Linked DNA regions of Homo sapiens. The protein of the gene in region 1 binds, or shares a complex with, the protein of each later gene. Each region holds a gene or a part of one and is shown in the gene's direction. Other genes may lie near its edges. The genes, in order: CWC27, BUD13, SNRNP40, GPKOW and SNW1.

The links.
Region 2: CWC27 (region 1) and BUD13 share a complex: the UniProt entries of both Homo sapiens proteins name them as parts of the activated spliceosome.
Region 3: CWC27 (region 1) and SNRNP40 share a complex: the UniProt entries of both Homo sapiens proteins name them as parts of the minor spliceosome.
Region 4: CWC27 (region 1) and GPKOW share a complex: the UniProt entries of both Homo sapiens proteins name them as parts of the minor spliceosome.
Region 5: CWC27 (region 1) and SNW1 share a complex: the UniProt entries of both Homo sapiens proteins name them as parts of the minor spliceosome.

Annotation. Positions count from the first base shown.
Region 1 is NC_000005.10:64,771,814-64,775,760, forward strand, and holds part of CWC27 (spliceosome-associated protein CWC27 homolog), read left to right. Parts: intron 1-2,877; coding exon 2,878-2,974; intron 2,975-3,947. UniProt on the Homo sapiens protein: As part of the spliceosome, plays a role in pre-mRNA splicing. Probable inactive PPIase with no peptidyl-prolyl cis-trans isomerase activity. As a component of the minor spliceosome, involved in the splicing of U12-type introns in pre-mRNAs.
Region 2 is NC_000011.10:116,762,988-116,766,934, reverse strand, and holds part of BUD13 (BUD13 homolog), read left to right. Parts: intron 1-1,488; coding exon 1,489-1,573; intron 1,574-3,668; coding exon 3,669-3,947. UniProt on the Homo sapiens protein: Involved in pre-mRNA splicing as component of the activated spliceosome. As a component of the minor spliceosome, involved in the splicing of U12-type introns in pre-mRNAs.
Region 3 is NC_000001.11:31,282,999-31,286,945, reverse strand, and holds part of SNRNP40 (U5 small nuclear ribonucleoprotein 40 kDa protein), read left to right. Parts: intron 1-3,947. UniProt on the Homo sapiens protein: Required for pre-mRNA splicing as component of the activated spliceosome. Component of the U5 small nuclear ribonucleoprotein (snRNP) complex and the U4/U6-U5 tri-snRNP complex, building blocks of the spliceosome.
Region 4 is NC_000023.11:49,116,977-49,120,923, reverse strand, and holds part of GPKOW (G-patch domain and KOW motifs-containing protein), read left to right. Parts: intron 1-1,109; coding exon 1,110-1,219; intron 1,220-3,113; coding exon 3,114-3,327; intron 3,328-3,761; coding exon 3,762-3,894; intron 3,895-3,947. UniProt on the Homo sapiens protein: RNA-binding protein involved in pre-mRNA splicing. As a component of the minor spliceosome, involved in the splicing of U12-type introns in pre-mRNAs.
Region 5 is NC_000014.9:77,729,808-77,733,754, reverse strand, and holds part of SNW1 (SNW domain-containing protein 1), read left to right. Parts: intron 1-1,153; coding exon 1,154-1,270; intron 1,271-2,625; coding exon 2,626-2,767; intron 2,768-3,947. UniProt on the Homo sapiens protein: Involved in pre-mRNA splicing as component of the spliceosome. As a component of the minor spliceosome, involved in the splicing of U12-type introns in pre-mRNAs.

The DNA of each region.
Region 1 (3,947 bases):
ATATACCTTCTTTATTAATTCAGTAGCTTATTAATGAAAAGATTAAGAAACCCTGGTGAGCAAAGTGGCCCGATTATATATGCATTCTTTTTACTAGGTGTAAGTTGCCTGTGGCCAAAAAACCACGTAATAATGACTATCATTTTTTGAGCACTTATTATTTGTCATTTACTTTTCTAAGCAGTCTATGTATTACAGCTCATTTTGTCCTCACAGAAATCCTAAAAGATATTATTATCCCGTTTTTAGATTAGGAAATTAAGTGACAGAGATGTCAGATAGTGTGCGCAAGGTAACAAAGCTAGTAAATGGAAGGGCCAGTATTTGAATTTGGGCATCCTGATTCCAGAGCCTGTGGAGGGAGGGATGATGTAATTAGTGTGTTCATTAGAGCAGTGGTTTCTAAACCAGTGAGTGCATACTTCAGTGGGTGTGCAAAACCATCCATGAGCTGTGGGGAGAAAATCTATATATATTTGTATTTTTTTCCTTTGTTTAAATTCATTATTTAATATATATAAAAAGATGATGACTGGGTGCAGTGGCTCATGCCTATAATCCCAGCACTTTGGGAGACTATGGCAGATTGCCTGAGGTCAGGAGTTCAAGACCAATCTGGCCAACAGGGTGAAACCCTGTCTCTACTAAAAAAAATGCAAAAAAAGTAGCCGGGCATGATGTTGTGAGCCTGTAATCCCAGCTACTCAGGAGGCTAAGGCAGGGGAATTGCTTGAACCAAGGAAGTGGAGGTTGCAGTGAACTGAGATCACACCACTGCACTCGGGTCTGGGAGACAGTGAGACTCTGTCTCAAAAAAAAAAAAAAAAAAAAAAAAAAAAAAAGTCCAGGCGCAGTGGCTCATGCCTGTAATCCCAGCACTTTGGGAGGCTGAGGCGGGCGGATCATGAGATCAGGAGCTCGAGACCAGCCTGGCCAACATGGTGAAACCCCGTCTCTACTAAAGATACAAAAAATTAGCTGGGTGTGGCGGTGGGTGCCTGTAGTCCCAGCTACTCGGGAGGCTGAGGCAGGAGAATTGCTTGAACCCGGGAAGCAGAGGTTGCAGTGAGCCGAGATCGTGCCGTTGCACTCCAGCCTGCGCAACGGGGTGAGACTCTGTCTCAAAAAAAAAAAAAGGCACTTTTTTGGCATTGTGGTGTAATTTTTCATAACGACTAGCCAAATAGATTTATAGACCATAGTATTTAGATTAACTAAACCAGCCATCACAAATTTCTTATTGAAGATATTATTAATAATATAAACAAGCAAATCATAAGAACATGATAGAGCTGATACCTCAGCATGGGAAGTCTGTCAAAAAAATCAGAAATTATTATGAAGACCATTGGAAATATGGATTTCTATTTATTGTTTTCAATGGTGAACTTTGCCTTAAATATATATTGTGTCTTGAAATATTTACCAGTAAGAGTATAAAGTCATTGTGATTTTCAAGACATTTAAAAACTAGATGTGTAGAACTGAAAGACCCCTATATAATTTGAAAGCAACATTATGCTAAGTAAAAGAAGCCAGACACAAAAGGCCACATATTGTATGATTCTGTTTATATGAAATGTTTAATAGGCAAATCTACACAGACAGAAAGTAGATTAGTGGCTGCCAGAGAGTAGGAGTAGGGGTAAATAGGGAGTGACTGCTAATGAGTACAGGGTTTCTTTTTAGGGTGGTGAAATGTGACTTAGCATTGATGATACTGACCTATGAGAAACAGCCTCATGTTTTTGAACAGTTATATTGCATACTCTTTACTTGAAAGAGCATTCTAAAAGATTGTGATGGTCACAAATTATTGACACTGATCTACTTTGGTATACTAGGGGAGAAAAAAGAAGAAGTAATACTGGAGAAATTGGTTTCCAGCTATGCCACAATGTTCAAATTTAGAGCCTAACATTCTTTTTGGTTATTTGTGGTTATAAATAAGACAGTTATAAACTGTTTCCTGTGGGCCCAGCAGGGAGGGGTTCTAGTTGCAAAGTTTCTGGTTCTACCAAGGAGTATCTGCTGTTATGAGCTGGTGGAAAGGCTATCACGGGATTCTATTTACTATAGAAGGTGATTTTAAGACATAGTATTTTAGTAAATCACAAGCCAGAATTAGATTAAGAATGTTCCTTTGTAAATTAGGAATAGCATGATGTTAAATGAGCAGAGAGAGTAAAAGGTAATTAAAAAGGGTAATTATAAAATTGTCCTATAATGTCACAATTTAATGGGTTCATTATTCTTTAATTTCTTAATTTGCTACACAGTTTTATTGGAATTGATGCAATGGGAAACTCAATTATAACAAATTTGCATTATTGGGGTTTTGTCATGTTTTATTTTATTTTGAGACAGGGTCTTGCTCTGTCATCCAGGCTGGAATATAGTGGCATGATCATAGCTCACTATTACTTCAGATTCCCAGGCTCAAGTGATCCTCTCAACTCGGCCTCCCAAATAGCATGGAACACCACCATGCCTGGCTAATTAAAACAAATTTTCTTAGAGACAGGGTCTGTCTGTGTTGCCGAAGCTGTTCTTGAACTCCTAGCCTCAAGTGAACTCACTTTAGATATTACCGTTTTCTAAATGAATGAAGTTTTTTTCTGTGATTAAAAAAGATATATGCTATTGTTTTCTTAAATCCCAAACTTTTTCTGAAATGGTATTTTGAAAGATCTAAATGTACAATGAGTTGTAGTGAATATTTGACATTTTGTTGAGTATATCAACAAAAGCCAAACACAATTTTTAATATTTCTTTTAAAATTGAAAACTCACTAGTGATTGCTACAAGTCAAATAGTTATTCAACTGATTATTAAGCAAAATAATAATTTAATAAAATGTAATATTCTTTCTACAGGTTTTATTGAAAACTACAGCTGGAGATATTGACATAGAGTTGTGGTCCAAAGAAGCTCCTAAAGCTTGCAGAAATTTTATCCAACTTTGTTTGGAAGGTATGTTGACTTTTATTCTACTGGAGAAATTCTTGTTAATTTAAAAATAAACTGCAGTGTCTGCTTCACAACATTGAAGACTAGTGTTAAATAGTGGTCATGAATGACAGGTGTTGCTATGAGGATATGGTATTGAGCTGGGTGTCCGGAAGTAGAGATAAGAGATAAATGTTATCCCAAATAAATTTGAATACTTTCAACAGAGCAGTTTATCTCAACAAATAATACTGTGATCCTCTTTGGTCTTCTTTGCTATCTTACGCTTCTTCCTTTCATTCTCTAAATTTGGGTATTCCCTAAGATTGCCTCTAGTTCTCTATTGTCATCACTCTCTAGTTGTTACTTCAGTCCAAATGACTACCACATTAAGAACTTCAGTCATTTCTTCTCTTCCTAGTACTAATTTACATATCTAATTGCCTAGTGGACTTTTCAACTGGAGCCTTCCACTGTTAGCTATAACAAAACCAGTGTAAAACCAAATTTACCAATTTCTTCCCCAGTCTGCCTTTCACCTGTATGACTGTAATTGCCTCTTGCCTGCTCCCCTTCCTGTCTTTCATCCTTAATTTCTTTTCTCTCTTCCTTGTTTATATGGTATTTGAATCCTCAGGCAGCTTGGCTTCCTAGCTATCCAACTTTCTAGCTCATTGCACTAACCACATGGTTTTAGTTGGACATTATTTCCTAAGCATTTCCTTTCCGTTTCCACTTTCATACATGTCCTCATACTAGTTCCCCTTCTTTTGGTATGCTTTTTCTTCCCTTTTTTTACTGTTTAAGTCTACCCATTTTTAAATGTCTGTTCAAAATTCTAGTTTCTCCACACAGCCTTCCAGCTAGCATCCAGTGATATTATTATCAATGTCTCTAGTTTTTTTAGATTTGAGTCATAAAGTAACTATTTTTCTTTTTTTAAAATGCTGCAGAATTATACATCCACTGAAGTGTTTTTCCCTGCAGAGTATTCTCT
Region 2 (3,947 bases), on another chromosome or scaffold:
ATTACAGGAATGAGCCACCGCACCTGGCCATTTTCTTTTATAATATTGTCTTGCTTTTATGATGGCCCAAAAACCTAAACAAAGGAGGCTTTAGTGCCACTGCTCTCTGCATTGGTTAAAACAGATCTTGATTACTGAATTCATTTTTGTAACTGCAAGATCACCACCACCACCAGTAATAATGGTAAAACGATTATGATGATTACGATAGCAGTGGCAGCACAGGAATAATTAATAGGTGTCATTTATTGGGCATTTATCATGTACCAAGCATGGCTAAGCTTACGTGAATTATCTCATTCAATCCTTATAGCAATCCTTTGAATCCCACTTTTACAAATGAGGAAATTGAGGCTTAGAATAATTTACCAAAGGTTACACAAATGCTAAGTGGCCGAGCTGGGGTTTAGATCTTAATTCATCTTGCCCGAAACCTGTGCTTTTAACGCTCAGTGAGAGATCTCAAAACTGGGTTATATGAAGAATGATGGTAGGATTTTGGGAGAAGTAGAGGGCTATTATGACCTGGATTTAAATTCCAGTTCTGCCACTTGTTAGCTTGTGACATTGAGAAAGTTACTGAACTTCTCCGAATCAGTTTGCTATTCAGTAGTGTGGAGCCTTTCTTTACAGGATTATTGTGAGAATCGAGTTAGATTATATGAGTAAACCACAAAACACAGTACCTTGCACATAGTTGCTACTCTGTAACTAGGATTTATTATGCCAGCAATCTTGAAAGTTTGTCATGTGGACTTACATCACAGGTCAGAACTAGAATGAATTCAAAGAAGTTATAGGAAGGCAGATACGGTACTAGTAAAACTAAGAACTTTCTAACATTTTTGAAAAATGCAGTGGACTGTGTTGTAAGATAATGAGTTCCTTGTCAGGAAGGGATTGGGCGAGTGACCACTTATTAGGAATACTATAGAGAAGATTCTGATTTGTTCAGAAGTTTAGAAGATATGAAATGTGGTTTTAGCTCTTAAAGATTAATGATTCTGTGTACATCTCAGTGGCTCTTTTTGGTTGTATTCAAGAAAACCTATCACTGTGACTACCTACAACAAGAAAGGATTCATAGAAACCCAAAGTCCTTGATTAGTGCTAGGCATGATGGGGGGAGCCACCTATGTTTCCACTGTTAATGTAGAAGTAAAAGTGTAAAAGGAATTTAGTTGTTAGTTTACAAGTGGCTGTTGTGTACCTAGCAGGTTAATAAAAAGGTTTGTAATGAAAAAAATTAACCTTTGCAGGGTAATTGATTAATTAGAGAAGGATCTACAATTAAACCAATACAGTGACAATCAGATGTTTATGGAGCAAACATAACTGAAGACCCCTACTTACTTCTTCATGACCATTTTGGATATATGTACGCCCTTGTGTTAGGAATCGGAATGGTTGTAACTTCAGGTTCTTGAGACAGTGCTTCTTGGCTGGATCCTGTGGATTTCCTAAGATAGGAAATCTTTACTCTCACAGGTGGCAGAGTTTGTGGATGAGCGGCCAGAAGAGGTAAAGCAGATGGAGGCCTTTCGTTCCAGTGCCAAATGGAAGCTTCTGGGAGGTGAGTTCCAACAATAGATAAATCTAAATTTCCATTAGTAGGGGAGATCTTTTTTCCTTTTCTATACTTTTCTTTAGAGGAATGCATAGTTTGTTTTAGCATGTCATTGATCCTGAAAAATAAAGCAGGAAAAAGGAAGTTGGACTTCTTCAGAGGTAGTAAGACATAGGAACTTATAGACCAGATATTCCTCTTTCTCTTATATTTTGGCATTAGGATTACTGAGGTTGGTGACTAATTTGGAGGCCTTTGAGCACCCATTCCTCTTTGACTCAGAATAGGAGAGCACTTGGTGTATAGGCAAGACTTTGGGAGGAGTTTACAAGAAACAGGAGCAGAATTTGGGGACTTTAGCTACCACTATCCTCTTCCACAATGAAGCAACTCATTTCTGGGGGGTCAAGGACCAGTGTATTTTGTTCTGTTTGTGTTAGTAAATTTCTCTCTTCTTTCCTTAAGTATTGGTGTTTTATAGTGCATTACCCTCCACTTGCCCACTTTGGACTCTTCCTAAGCTAATAATCTTAATTTAACTCTCTTTAAAAAAATTTGAGTCCTTGAGAATTGGATAAAAAGCATTTGTTTGTCACATCTGTTTGAGCATAGACTAGTCTTATTTGCCATGATATTCCCCTATCTAGCACAAGGAGCTACCTTTAATAAATATTTGTAGAATTGTTTAATTGCTAGTAGGTATTTGATTTTTGTAGCCTAATCAGAATTCTTTTCCAAAGAGAATCTTTTGGTCTCCATGTCTGTTTGTCTAGGAAGACACACAGACACACACATACACACGGTGCCTTTTCTTGTGTATCTGAATGTTTAGAAGGTCAGTCACACACACACACAGTCACACTCACACTCACTCACTCCTTTTCTTCTGCCTTGCTTTCACTCCCCCATCCCAATTTGTTATTGGAAGTACGCTTACCAATCTCTGACCCTTGCTTCCTTCAGATTTACTGTTAGGCCCCCCACAGACATCATACTTTTCTCTGTGGAGTGGATTCCAATCAGATAGGGCTGTTCCCCAAAGTAAAGGAGTTGACTTGGTTTAATTCATCCATTTAACAAGTATTCATCAGTTCCTACCCAGCTTTTATTTGTATTTGGGCTGTGGAGCTCAATGACAAGAAATAGAGGTAGAGGAAGAACTGGATTTTGAAACTGTTCCAGTTGCTATAGATATTTCATTCTGTGGTGCCTTTGAATATGGAAGGTCTCAAACTATGTATTTTAACTTTAAAGCTTTACATATTTTAAAGATTGCACATGGACTCTGGAGTCAAATAGAGCTGGATTTAAATATTCCTCTACCACTTATTAGCAATATGACTTTGGCAAGTTAATCTTTCTGAGTATCAACTTCCTCATCTATAAATGAAATGACAGTATTTATGTCCTAGGCTTGTTGTGAGAATTGAATCAGGTAATCTCTATGAAACACTGGCACACAGTAGGTGATTGGTAATTACTTGCTCCTTTCTTTTTTATGGTGATTTTTCCCCTCTCTAAGAAAGAGCACAGTGAAATGGATTAAATAGTTAACAGCATTTTATTTTGATATTCACCGTTTTAGTCAATTTACCTATTGAAAGAAGAGTGAGTACAAACTATAAAGTATCTAGGCAAAATATCAGTAGGAGCCACTAGCTGGGAACTCTGCACAAATGAGGTTTTAGAAAGAACATTGGACTGGGAGTTAGAAGACTTGGATTCTAGCCTGTGTCTTCATTTTAGGAGCTGTGACCTTAGGTAAGAAATCACTCAGCTCCTCAGCTGAAAACAGAGGCTGTGGCCTCTGTTTTCATGCTGTAATACAAGGGTACCTGCCCTGCTTACCTTAAAGGGTATAATATGAAAAATGTGCTGAAAATGCTTTGCAAATTTATGACTTGGTAGGCGGAGGGGTTATTCTTAAGATATTCATGAGTGGTGGTTTGCTGCCCCTAAGCAAGAAAACTGTGCAGGCCTTTTGGGCTTTCTGAGCAGTTCTGAGGTATGTGCTACTGGAGCATCTTTTGAAACTGGGTGTGGGGGTGGACAGAGGGACAGAGCATTTGTGGGAATCTGACTCTTTGTTATTTGTGTTTAGGCCACAACGAAGACCTACCCTCAAACAGACATTTTCGTCACGATACCCCGGATTCATCTCCTAGGAGGGTCCGTCATGGTACCCCAGATCCATCTCCTAGGAAGGACCGTCATGACACCCCGGATCCATCTCCTAGGAGGGCCCGTCATGACACCCCGGATCCTTCTCCCCTCAGAGGGGCTCGTCATGACTCAGACACATCTCCTCCCAGGAGGATCCGTCATGACTCCTCAGACACTTCACCCCCAAGGAGGGCCCGTCATGATTCTCCAGATCCTT
Region 3 (3,947 bases), on another chromosome or scaffold:
TGTACTCATATATATATAAATTTCCCTTTCATGAGCAGTTCAGTCCTAAAGCCAGTTATATAGGCCAAAGCAGGGAAGGTGCTCTAGTTAGAGATGGGCCAAGGTGGCCCAGAGTAGAGTGTCAGAGCACAAGTGTGGTAAGGAGAGCATCCACACTGGGCAGGGCAGTACATTGTAGGGAGTAGTCAGAGAGTGAGGAAGGCATCCATACAACACAGGGTAGGTAACCAGTGTGGGGAATTTGAGGGTGAGGGAGGGGCAGCAGCCCAACAGTGCCCTAATGGGGTGAAAGGGTCGCCTGTACGTGAAGCAGTACGGGGAGAATGTGGATGTCAAAGCCTGAACTGAGGGCATCCACACAGGGTAGAAATGATTTGGTGTAGGGAGTCTGAGACTGAGCAAGATGATGACTGCATGCTTGGAGAAGTGCAGACTGGAAAAGAGCCGTAGCAGAGTGATGAGGGTGTTCACACAGAGGAATGACCCAAGTTGGTTAAGGAAGAGTCACACATGGCTTCAACCAAGAATGGGAATCACAATTCAAGTAGGGAAGGGTGGAAGAGAATATGGGAAACTGGTTGCATGCAGGAAGCATAATCAAATAAGTGAATATATTGAATTTAATGGGAGGCTGATTTCTCTGTCCAAGAACAGAGTTACCAGTACAAAAGAGAAGACTAAAATGAATCTTGTGTGAGGTATAAGTGTGAACTCACAATATTCAATATAGAAACATATAGAAAAAAATAGACATAAATGTGTGAGTGTGTGTGTGTGTGTACCTAAATGTACATATATTGCCTGACTGTCCACTGAAAAGGTTTAGGAGCAACAAGACCCCAATAGCAATAGCACCCCTTACTGCACAGGTACTGTTTTCCATTAAAAGGAACCAGGGCTCCTATTTCAGCCCAGGGGCAGTGAAAGTACAAGATAAGCCTTGTACTTGTCAAGGCTTATTTTGTCAAAAGAACATCCTAACTAAATTATCAAATCGACCTAATTAGTAATGGGACAAGACAAAATCATGAACCATTTGCTAGGATACAACAAAGATGCAGCATCATTTCTGTGATATTCCTACCAAAGATGTATAACTTAAATCTAATCAAGAGGAAACATAAGACAAACCTAAATTGGGGATGATGACCTGTAACTTTCAGAAGTGTTGAGTTCATAAAACTCAAGGAAAGTTTGAGAGAGTCTTGCAGACTGGAGTCTAAATTTAACATATGATTCCAGACTGAATCCTTGTGCAATAAGACATTTGGGATAACTGGTAAAACTTGAGTGGGATTTGAGGATAAAATGGTGATAGTGTATCTGTATTTCTTGATTTTGATGGTTATGTTGAGATGATGTAGGAGAACATCTTTGTAGGACAGACACTATTTAGGAGTGATAAGGGGCCAGGTGCAGTGGCTTATGCCTGTAATCCTAGCACTTTGGGAGGCCTAGGCAGGTGGATCACTTGAGGTCGGGAGTTTGAAACCAGCCTGGCCAACTTGAAGAAACCCTGTCTCTACTAAAAATACAAAAAAGCCGGGCATGGTGGCAGATGCCTGTAATACCAGCTACTCAGGAGGCTGAGGAAGAATTGCTTGAACCCGGGAGGTGGAGGTTGCAGTGAGCGGAGATCACGCCACTGCACTCCAGAATGAGCAACAGACAGAGTGAGACTCCCATCTCAAAAAAAAAAAAAAGGTGATAAGGCATTGGGTAAGCAACTTACTCTCAAATGATTTAGACCAAAAAAAGTGTTCTTTTTACTTCCAAGTTTTCTATAAATTTATGATTGCTTCAAAGTAAAATAATTATTAAAAGTGGTAGTTATCTGGAACTAAAATTCTAAATTATTTTAAACAAACTTTGACTACCATGACTTTTAGGAGAAAGACAAAGATAGATTTGACCTGAGTGAAGTATCTATTGAGACAAAGATTATAGTACAGTTTATAAAATATATAGGATCTAAATTATTAAGGCCTTGAATTCCAGGTTAAGAAGTTTGGACTTGATTCTGTAACCACAGGAGTTGGGGGAGTAGGAGATGTTGGGCATGTAGGAGAGGAGTGAAGCGTTCTTTTTAGACCATTTATCTGAGTAATGAACTAATTTTTAGTTCGTATTTACATGAACAAAGAAGAAACTACTTTTCATCCTAAACCATGAGAATTGGGAGGAAGAGGCATCTTGGCACAGATCCTACTCAGACTCTCCTTGTTGACTACAGGATTGAAGTTAAGCCTATGACCTTCCCTAAAGTTCCATGGCTGATTCCTTTCTTTTTGATGCCAGCCCTTTAAAACTTGGAACAGTCATCCCAAAGTCTCTTTCTTCTGAATGAAACGACCCATACTTTTAAATCATTTACTTGTGGTTCATCTTCTCAAGTGTGTCATTCATTTATTGAAACATCTCTGAGCCCTCTCTGTGTTATCCACGCTTTAAAAAAGTAGAGCTATAAGGGTTTGTTTGTTTAAGAGATGGGGTCTTGGCCGGGTGCAGTGGCTCACGCCTGTAATCCCACCACTTTGGGAGGCCAAGGTGGGTGGATCACCTGAGGTCAGGAGTTCGAGACCAGCCTGGCCAACATGGTGAAACCCCCGTCTCTTCTAAAAATAGAAAAATTAGCTGGGCGTGGTGGCGCATGCCTGTAATCCCAGCTATCCAGGAGGCTAAAGCAGGAGAATTGCTGGAACACGGAAGCAGAGGTTGCAGTGAGCCGAGATGCCGCCACTCTCACCCAGGCTGGAGTACAGATCCGCAATCACGGCTCACTGCAGCCTCAACCTCTCTGGCCCAAGCGATCCTCCCATCTCAGCCTCCCAAGTAGCTGGGACTATAGGCATATACCACCACACCCAACTTTTTGTTTTTATTTTGTAGAGATGAGGAATCACCATGTTGCTCAGGCTGGTCGCTAACTCTGGGCTAAAGCCATCCTCCTGGCCTCGGCCTCCGAAAGTGCTGGGGTTACAGGCATGAGCCACCATACCTGGCCCTCTAAGAATTTTATAGTTTTAGCTCTTACATTTAGGTCCTTGATCCATGTTGAATTAATTTTTGTGTATCATGTTAGGCAGGGGCTTACCTTCATTCTTTGGCATGTGGTTAGCCAGTTGTCTTAGCACAATTTGTTGAGAAGACTACTTTTTCCTTCTATATGGACCATAGTTACTTGCTTCTTTGCATGCCTTATATTTTGTTGAAAACTAGGCATTTAAATATTATAGCGTGGTGACTCTGGAAATTAGGTCCCCAGAGCTGCTTATTGTAGTTGTTTGTTTAGTGACTTTCTGTGGGTTGGGGTAAGGTGAGAGTGGTTGGTTGGTTGGTTTTTGAGACGAAGTCTCGCTCTGTAGCCCAGGCTGGAGTGCAGTAGTGCGATCTTGGCTCACTGCAACCTCCACTCCCCGGGTTCAAGTGATTCTTGCACCTCAGCTTCCTGAGTAGCTGGGGTTACAGGGGCACACCACCATGACCAGCTAATTTTTGTATTTTTAGTAGAAACAAGGTTTTACCATGTTAGCCACGCTGGTCTTGAACTCCTGACCTCAAGTGATCCATCCACCTCGGCCTCCCAAAATGCTGGGATTACAGGTGTAAGCCACCATGCCCGGCCTGTTTAGTGAATTTTTGAACTAATTTTGTAAAGTTTGTATTCTTTGTCCTGTGTGACCACTGAATTCTTTTTTTCGTTAGCTTAGTGGTCAGCTAGTGAATGACACAAGTTTCCTAAATTACCTACAACAACAAGAACAAAAATTCTCCCAGTCTTTGCAGATTGTCTTTTTGTATGTTGGAGCCTGCCTTCAACTCCTTGCCATGCAGTTTACATCTCTCCTTAGCTTTCACTTCCTGCTTGTGCAGAGCCTGAAGGTGAACCAGAGAGCTTACGGCCTTCTCAGATCTTTTCTAAGTATGTGCCCAGCCCTGGACATGCA
Region 4 (3,947 bases), on another chromosome or scaffold:
GAGAGGCTGAGGCCAGCGGATCACCTGAGGTCAGGAGTTCAAGACCAGCCTGGCCAACATGGCGAAACCCCATCACTAGTAAAAATACAAAAATTAGCTGGGCATGGTGGCACGTGCCTGTAATCACAGCTACTCGGGAGGCTGAGGCAGGAGAATCGCTTGAACCCAGGAGACTGAGGTTGCAGTGAGCTGAGATCATGCAACTGCACTCCAGCCTGGGCAACACAGCAAGACTTCATCTCAAGAAAAAAAAAAAAGAAAACCTTGGAGTCATCCTCAATTCCTCTCTTTATTTCGTGCCCCATACAATATGCCAGCACAATCCTATCATCTTTTTTCAAAATGACACCCAGAACTGACCACTTCTCACCACCACCAATACCACTGCAAAGGGCTGAGCCACCAGCATCTCTCATCTGGACTATTAGAGTAATTTCCTCACTGGTCCCTCTTGTGGCTCCCACCTGGCTCAAGGTCCTCTGACTCCTGCCCAGCTCTCCTGATTTGGTCTCTTCCCCACCCTTCTCTGCTGTCTACTCTCACTCTCTCCATTTCAGTCATGGTGACTTTCATGATACCCCTCACACATACCAAGCCTTGTCCGGCCTCAGGGCCTTTGCTGTTACTATGCTTTCAGCTTGGGACACTTTCTTCTCATATCCTCATGGCTCCCTCTGCTGTCATCTCCTGATCTCTGCTTAAATGTCAACCCAGTGGCACTCCCTCTCCATCCCTCTGCATCTTCTTACCCTGTTTTCTTGTTCTTTACATCACCACCTGACATATCATGTTTTCTGGGTTTTATTTATAGTATGTCTCCACAACTAGATCAGAAGCTCTGCAGGGGTAGGGGTTTTTGTCTGTTTGGTTCACAGCTTCATCCCCAGTACCTAGAACAGTACTTGCCATAGACAAGGTGCTTTATATTTGTTGAAGGACTGAACATGGAGGAGTACAGTGAGGGATGGAAAGAGGAAATCAAAACTCACCCTTGAGCTGATTGGAAAAGACGCGTAGCAGGTCTCCCAGTGGGGGGCAGCAAGTGCACTTCAAATAGAAGACCCAGTGTAAGCAAAGCCTGACCCTCCTTCCTCTACCTGAACCTGTAGGTGCCAGAGGAGGCTAATTATGAGGCGGTCCCCGTGGAGGCCTATGGGCTGGCCATGCTGCGGGGCATGGGCTGGAAACCTGGCGAGGGCATCGGCCGCACCTTCAATCAGTGAGTTCTGGGATAGGGTCGAGGGGACAGACAGATCATCAGGCTGCAATCAAGATCCCCAGGGTCACTGCCAAACCAGAACCACCTAGGCAGGGAGGGAGGATACATTATCGCCCTAACTAATTCAGCAGCCCCTTCCACTACTGTTTTAAACTCCCATTTGCCCTTTGAAACTCTAATAGAATCCCATTTATATAAAGTTTGCCTCTAGGGACATCAATTTCCTCATCTGAAAAATGGGGGTAATAGTACTGACTTCATAGGTCTGTTGTGAGAGTTAAATGAAATTATACACATAGGCCAGGTAGTGGCTCATGCCTGTAATCCCAGCACTTTCGGAGACTGAGGCAGGAGGATCACTTAACTCCAGGAGTTTGAGACTGGCCTGGGCAACATAGGGAGGCCCCATCTCTACAAAAGATTAATTAATTTTAAGAAAAGAAATTAGGGCCGGGTGTGGTGGCTCACACATATAATCCCAGCACTTTGGGAGGCTGAGGTGGGTGGATCACGAGGTCAGGAGATCGAGACCATCCTGGCTAACACGGTGAAAGCCCATCTCTACTAAAAAAAAAAATACAAAAAATTAGCCGGGCATGGTGGCGGGTGCCTGTAGTCCCAGCTACTCAGGAGGCTGAGGCAGGAGAATGGCGTGAACCTGGGAGGCGGAGCTTGCAGTGAGCCGAAATTGCACCACTGCATTCCAGCCTGGGTGACAGTGAGACTCCGTCTCAAAAAAAAAAAAAAAAAGGAAAAGGAAAAGAAATTATATACATAAAGCACATACAGTAGGCCCTGACCCCAAGAAAGCGTAGACTAAACATTTGCTATTGTCATGCAGACTTGCAACCCTTTCTTCACAATTGCAAACTCAATAATTCTGAAAACCAAACATTTTTTCATAACCCATTGGCAGCCAAATATGACCTGAATTGGCGTTTTTTTTTTTTTTTTTTTTTTTTTTTTGAGATGGAGTCTCTGTCTGTCACCCAGGCTGGGATGCAGTGGCGCAATCTCGGCTCGCTGCGACCTCTACCTCCTGAGTTCAAGTGATTGTCCTGCCTCAGCCTCCTGAGTAGCTGGGATTACAGGCATGCACCAGCATGCCTGGTTAATTTTTGTATTTTTAGTAGAGATGGGGTTTCCCCATGTTGACCAGGCTGGTCTTGAACTCCTGACCTTAGGTGATCTACCAACCTCGGTCTCCCAAAGTGCTGGGATTACAGGCATGAGCCACCATGCCCAACCATGTTGAGTATTTATAATCCGGTTTCTCCTGCTCGGTGTGAATGTTCATATGATTTCCCCTGTAGAAATAGTATATTTGGTTACAGCGATCTGCCTCTGATCTCACTGTAGATATTATGTAATAGATGGTATATGCAGCATGTTATTAGGTTGAACCAAATGAAATTGCTGTTTCTGTAGGTCAAAAACAGTCCTAATATGAGATCAGAAAGGGCAACCTTGAAAATATTGGTGGGGGCTGGACACGGTGGCTCACACCTGTAATCTCAGCACTTTGGGAGGCCAAAGAGGACGGATCACCTGAGGTCAGGAGTTCAAGACCGGCCTGACCAACATGGTGAAACCCTGTCTCTACTAAAAATACAAAAATTAGCCGGGCATGGTGGCATGCGCCTGTAACCCCAGCAACTCGGGAGGCTGAGGCAGGAGAATCCCTTGAACCTGGGAGGTGGAGGTTGCATTGAGTCGAGATCGAGCCATTGTACTCCAGCCTGGATGACAAGAGCAAAACTCCATCTCCAAAAAAAAAGAAAAGAAAAGAAAATGTCAATGGGGCGGGTGGGGCGGGTTTGGGCAGGAAGAGGAAGTAAATAAGGTGTTGAAGACTGTTGCATCCTCTCCAACAAACCCATATTCCTCCCTGCAGAGTAGTGAAGCCCCGTGTCAACTCACTGAGGCCCAAGGGGTTAGGGCTGGGTGCCAACCTGACCGAGGCCCAGGCCTTGACCCCCACTGGCCCCTCCCGCATGCCAAGACCAGATGAGGAGCAAGAGAAAGATAAGGAAGATCAGCCTCAAGGGCTGGTGCCTGGAGGAGCTGTGGTGGTTCTTTCTGGCCCTCACCGAGGCCTCTATGGGAAGGTAAGGAACCAAGATATCCCGGGAGCCCAAAACAGGCAGCAGGGAAGGTTGATCCGAGGGTCAGATGGAGGAATAATTGGATTTGAGGTAGAAAGGCTGGGACTCCTAGTCTTTTAGGTCTGCTTGGCCCACTGCCTCACTCAGTAACCCAGGACCACTTGCTGGCCTTTGTGAGCCTCAGTTCCCAGCTAAAAGGAAGAGAATGCCATATGCCACAAGTCCCTGAAGATTAAATGCTTAAAGGATCCAAGGAAGCCCCACAGTCAGCTGAGGGAGACACAGGAACCAGACCTGGTCCCACTTCTCAGGGGTCAGAGTCTGGTTGGGGAGACAGAGGAAGCAGGCCTCTTAGAGGTAAGGGGTTGACATCTTGGTCCTAGGAATGTGGGTGGAGTCCACAACCCCTACCTGACTTCTTCCCCTCAACACTTTAGGTGGAAGGCCTTGATCCTGACAATGTTCGGGCCATGGTTCGTCTGGCTGTGGGGAGCCGGGTGGTGACTGTTAGTGAGTACTACCTGCGGCCTGTCTCCCAGCAGGAGTTTGACAAGAACACCTTGGATCTCAGTGAGTGAGCCTCTTGTAGAGCTAGGGGAGTTGGCAACGCATTCCTAGGGGTG
Region 5 (3,947 bases), on another chromosome or scaffold:
TTTTTTTTTTTTGAGACGGTCTCGCTCTGTTGCCCAGGCTGGAGTACAGTGGTATGATCATGGCTCACTGCAGCCTCAACCTCCCAGGCTCAGGCGATCCTCCCACCTCAGCCTCCCGAGTAGTTGGGACCACAAGTGTGCCCCACCATGCCTGGCTACTTTTTTGTATTTTTGGTAGAGACGGGGTTTCACCATGTTGCCAGGCTGGTCTTGAACTCCTGGGCTCAAGCAATCCACCTGCCTTGGCCTCCCAAAGTGTTGGGATTACAGGCTTGAGCTACTGCACCCAGCCTTTTTTTTCTATTTACTAAAACTTCAGGATTCTAAGAATATAACAGATCATTAAGACAGTACAGCAGATTTAACTTCCTATAGATGCTAAGATTATAGTGATTCTACCTTTGTTTGACTGTTAAATTTACTTGAGGAGCAACTGTTGAACTGTTTGACAGTGATTTCCTTTTATTAAAATCGACAATTATTAACACAAATATCTATTTTTCCAGAGCTTGGGTTCTGAAATCCTGCTGAGTTTAAATCCTAATCGCCCACTTACTAACTGTATGACCTTGGGGATGTTACCAAAGCATCAGTGAAATGGACACAATAATGTTAGAAGCTTTATAGAGTTATCGTGAAGGTTAAATGAGACCATAGGTGTAAGTGCTTGATCTTCTACATAAAGCACTCATTGATAGCTGCTGTTGTTTTGCATCATTGTGAAGAAAGATGCAAGGAAAAAGAACCTCCAGTTAAGTGGTTCTCAAAATGTGGGCATATTTAAATTTAATTTTAGCCAGGCTCGATGGCTCATGCCTGTAATCCCAGCACTTTGGGAGGCCAAGGGCGGATCACTCAAGGTCAGGAATTCAAAACCATCCTGGCCAACATGGTGAAACTCCGTCTCTACTAAAAATAGAAAAACTAGCCGAGTGTGTGGCGCACGCCTATGGTCCCAGCTACTCGGGAGGCTGAGGTAGGAGACTCGCTTGAACCCAGGAGGCAGAGGTTGCAGTGAGCCGAGATGGCACCCCTGCCCTCCAGCCAGGGTGACAGAGCAAGACTCCAGCTCGAAAAAAATAAAATTAATTTAACTTCAGACGATTAATTGAAGCACTTCTGTGACTGGGTTTTCTGTCTGCTTTCACTCTAGGGTTATACAATTCCATTAGACAAACGTCTGGCTGCTGATGGAAGAGGACTACAGACAGTACACATAAATGAAAATTTCGCCAAATTGGCAGAAGCCCTCTACATTGCTGATCGGAAGGTTGGTTTGTTATAATTTGTTTAATGCTCTTGTTACTTTTAAAATCCATTCTTGGTTACCTAAGGTACTGATAATTTAACTATAGTACCGAGCACCCAAAGAGAGTCTCACCCATGGTACGTGTGTCAGAAATGGCAGCTGCTAGTTGGCAGCTCTCTGCATGCTCCCAGCTTTTGTAGATGTGTACATACACCCCACAGTGGTGATCCGGCTCCCTCACAACATGTCAGAATAATGGTTTCCTAGGATGATCCCATTTTTTGAAGATTGCTAGGTTTCATAATTTTTGATTTCAAATTTTCCTCTATTTTAGATGTAGATGTCCCCCAAAAGGGCAGTTGCAGGAAAAGGCAGATAAACATTCTAATGAATTGAATAGTACATAAAATGGCGTTCATAGCATTGGCCATCTATTAATGTTACATAATGTATTAAATATTATGGAATTAGGCTGGGCACAATGGCTCATGTGTATAATCCCAGCATTTTGGGAGGCCAAGACTGGTGGATTCCTTGAGGTTGAGAGTTCAAGACCAGCCTGACCAATGTGGTGAAACTCCATCTCTACTAAAAATACAAACATTAGCTGGATGTGGCATGCACCTGTAATCCTAGCTACTTGGGAGGCTGAGGCAGGAGAATCTCTCGAACCCAGGAGGTGGAGGTTGCAGTGAGCCAAGAACGCACCACTGCACTTCAGCCTGGGCAGCAGAGTAAGACACTTCATCTCAAAAAATATATGTAAATATAAATATTATGGAATTAATATGTGATATTGAAGTTCACATGCATCATAGCATGTGTTTGGAACATAAAAAAAATGTCTTTTGTATCACAGTGAGTACCCTTATAAAAATTATCTAGCAGATGTAAGTTAAGATTTTATCTTGAGTTGACTTGATTAACTTTGAAAGTGTTATTAATTTTGAAAATGTTATTTTTTTGAGATGGATCTCACTATGTTGCCTAGGCTGGTCCCAAGCTCCTGAGCTCAAGCAGTCCTTCCACCCTGGCCTCCCAAAGTGCTAGGATTGCAGGAGAGAGCCACTATGCCTGGCTTTAATTTTGTTCTTTAGATTGTTTCTGAGAAAGCATTAGTGAAATACTTGACTTACAAGATTAATTGGGGTCACGATAGTTTCAATCACTAAAATATTCCCAGAGAAAAAAGCTGACCTTGCAGTGTCTTCCAGGCAGGATATCTTTTAGTGGACAAGACTCTTTGTTTTAATTAGCAATAACAAATCTGAATTCTGTATAATTGCTCTTACCAGCCAGATGTTAGGGAGTTGGATGATAGCCATAAATATTTATCCCATGATAGTGTCCTGTTTAACATGTGACTTTACCAACAGGCTCGTGAAGCTGTGGAAATGCGTGCCCAAGTAGAGAGAAAAATGGCTCAGAAAGAAAAGGAAAAACATGAAGAGAAACTTAGAGAAATGGCCCAGAAAGCCAGGGAGAGAAGAGCTGGGATCAAAACTCATGTGGAAAAAGGTATGACATTCTCATTACTGAATTGAATTTTGCTTGGTGAACAAAATATATCTTATTTTAGAAAATCTTTTTCCTACTGCATATAAAGTAGGTACATATAAACAAAATTTAGATACATCAGATATAGTGTAGAAATGGAGAGTAATCTCTGCCTTAGTAAGCTGAAGCAACAGGAGATAAGAAAAAAGTGGGTCTTCAGTTTGGGACTGTACCAGAAATTTTTAAACTTCTGAGCAGTGTACTTTTCAAAATTGCATTATTACTCAAATGATAGGCTTGATTTTCTCTTATCTTAATCTCAAAACTTAAGAGAAATTAGGTATCTAACAGAATAATTCAGCTCCCTCATATGGTGAAGTAATCCAGAGTTTTTCTATCTTGTAGGCTCCAATGCATTTCTCATCATTAAATCTGCCAGTATTTTCTCTCTGACTTTACTTAGTGGTCTACATTGGTGTATTAATTCAATTAGAGTGGGAAGTCGAGTCCTAAGTATAATTCAAGAAATTTTGTGAGGGTGGTTATTTTTTTTTCATTACTAAATTCTTACCTGGTACATTTATTCATTCTTTCATTTATTTAGTTCATATTGAGCATCTGCTGTGTGCAAGGTTCTCTTTTAGACACAAAGTGTTTTTGCTAGACAGTGGGTAGGGGGATGGGATATAACAGTCAACATTCTGGTGAGTGTAGACAGACAGAAATTAATCATGTAGTATAGTAAAAGGTAATAATTGCTGTGGAGGAAAAATAATACAGGGAAAGAGGATATAAAATTGCCAGAAGGTGAGAGTGGTCAAATAGCCCTCACTTCTGAGATGGTGCTGTTAGCAGAAATACTTGAAGAAAGTAAGGAAGCAAACCATGTGGATTTCTGGGGGAAGAGCATCCCACACAGAAGGGCCAGCAAGTACATGGCTCTGAAATGGGAGTATGCCTAGTGTGGCCCAAGGAAGAGCAGACAGGCCAATATGACTGGATTTGTATGAGAAAGAAGGGGATAAGTAGGAGATGAGGTGTCAGAATAGTTAGGGCAGGTGGGAAGAGTAGTGGCCAGATCATGTATGGCCCTTTAACCTAAAGATAAAGCTTTTACTACAAGTGAAAAGGGAAGCAATTGCAGGGTTTTGAGCAGAGTAATGACCTGACATACTGTTTTCCAGCTTTATTGAGGTACAAT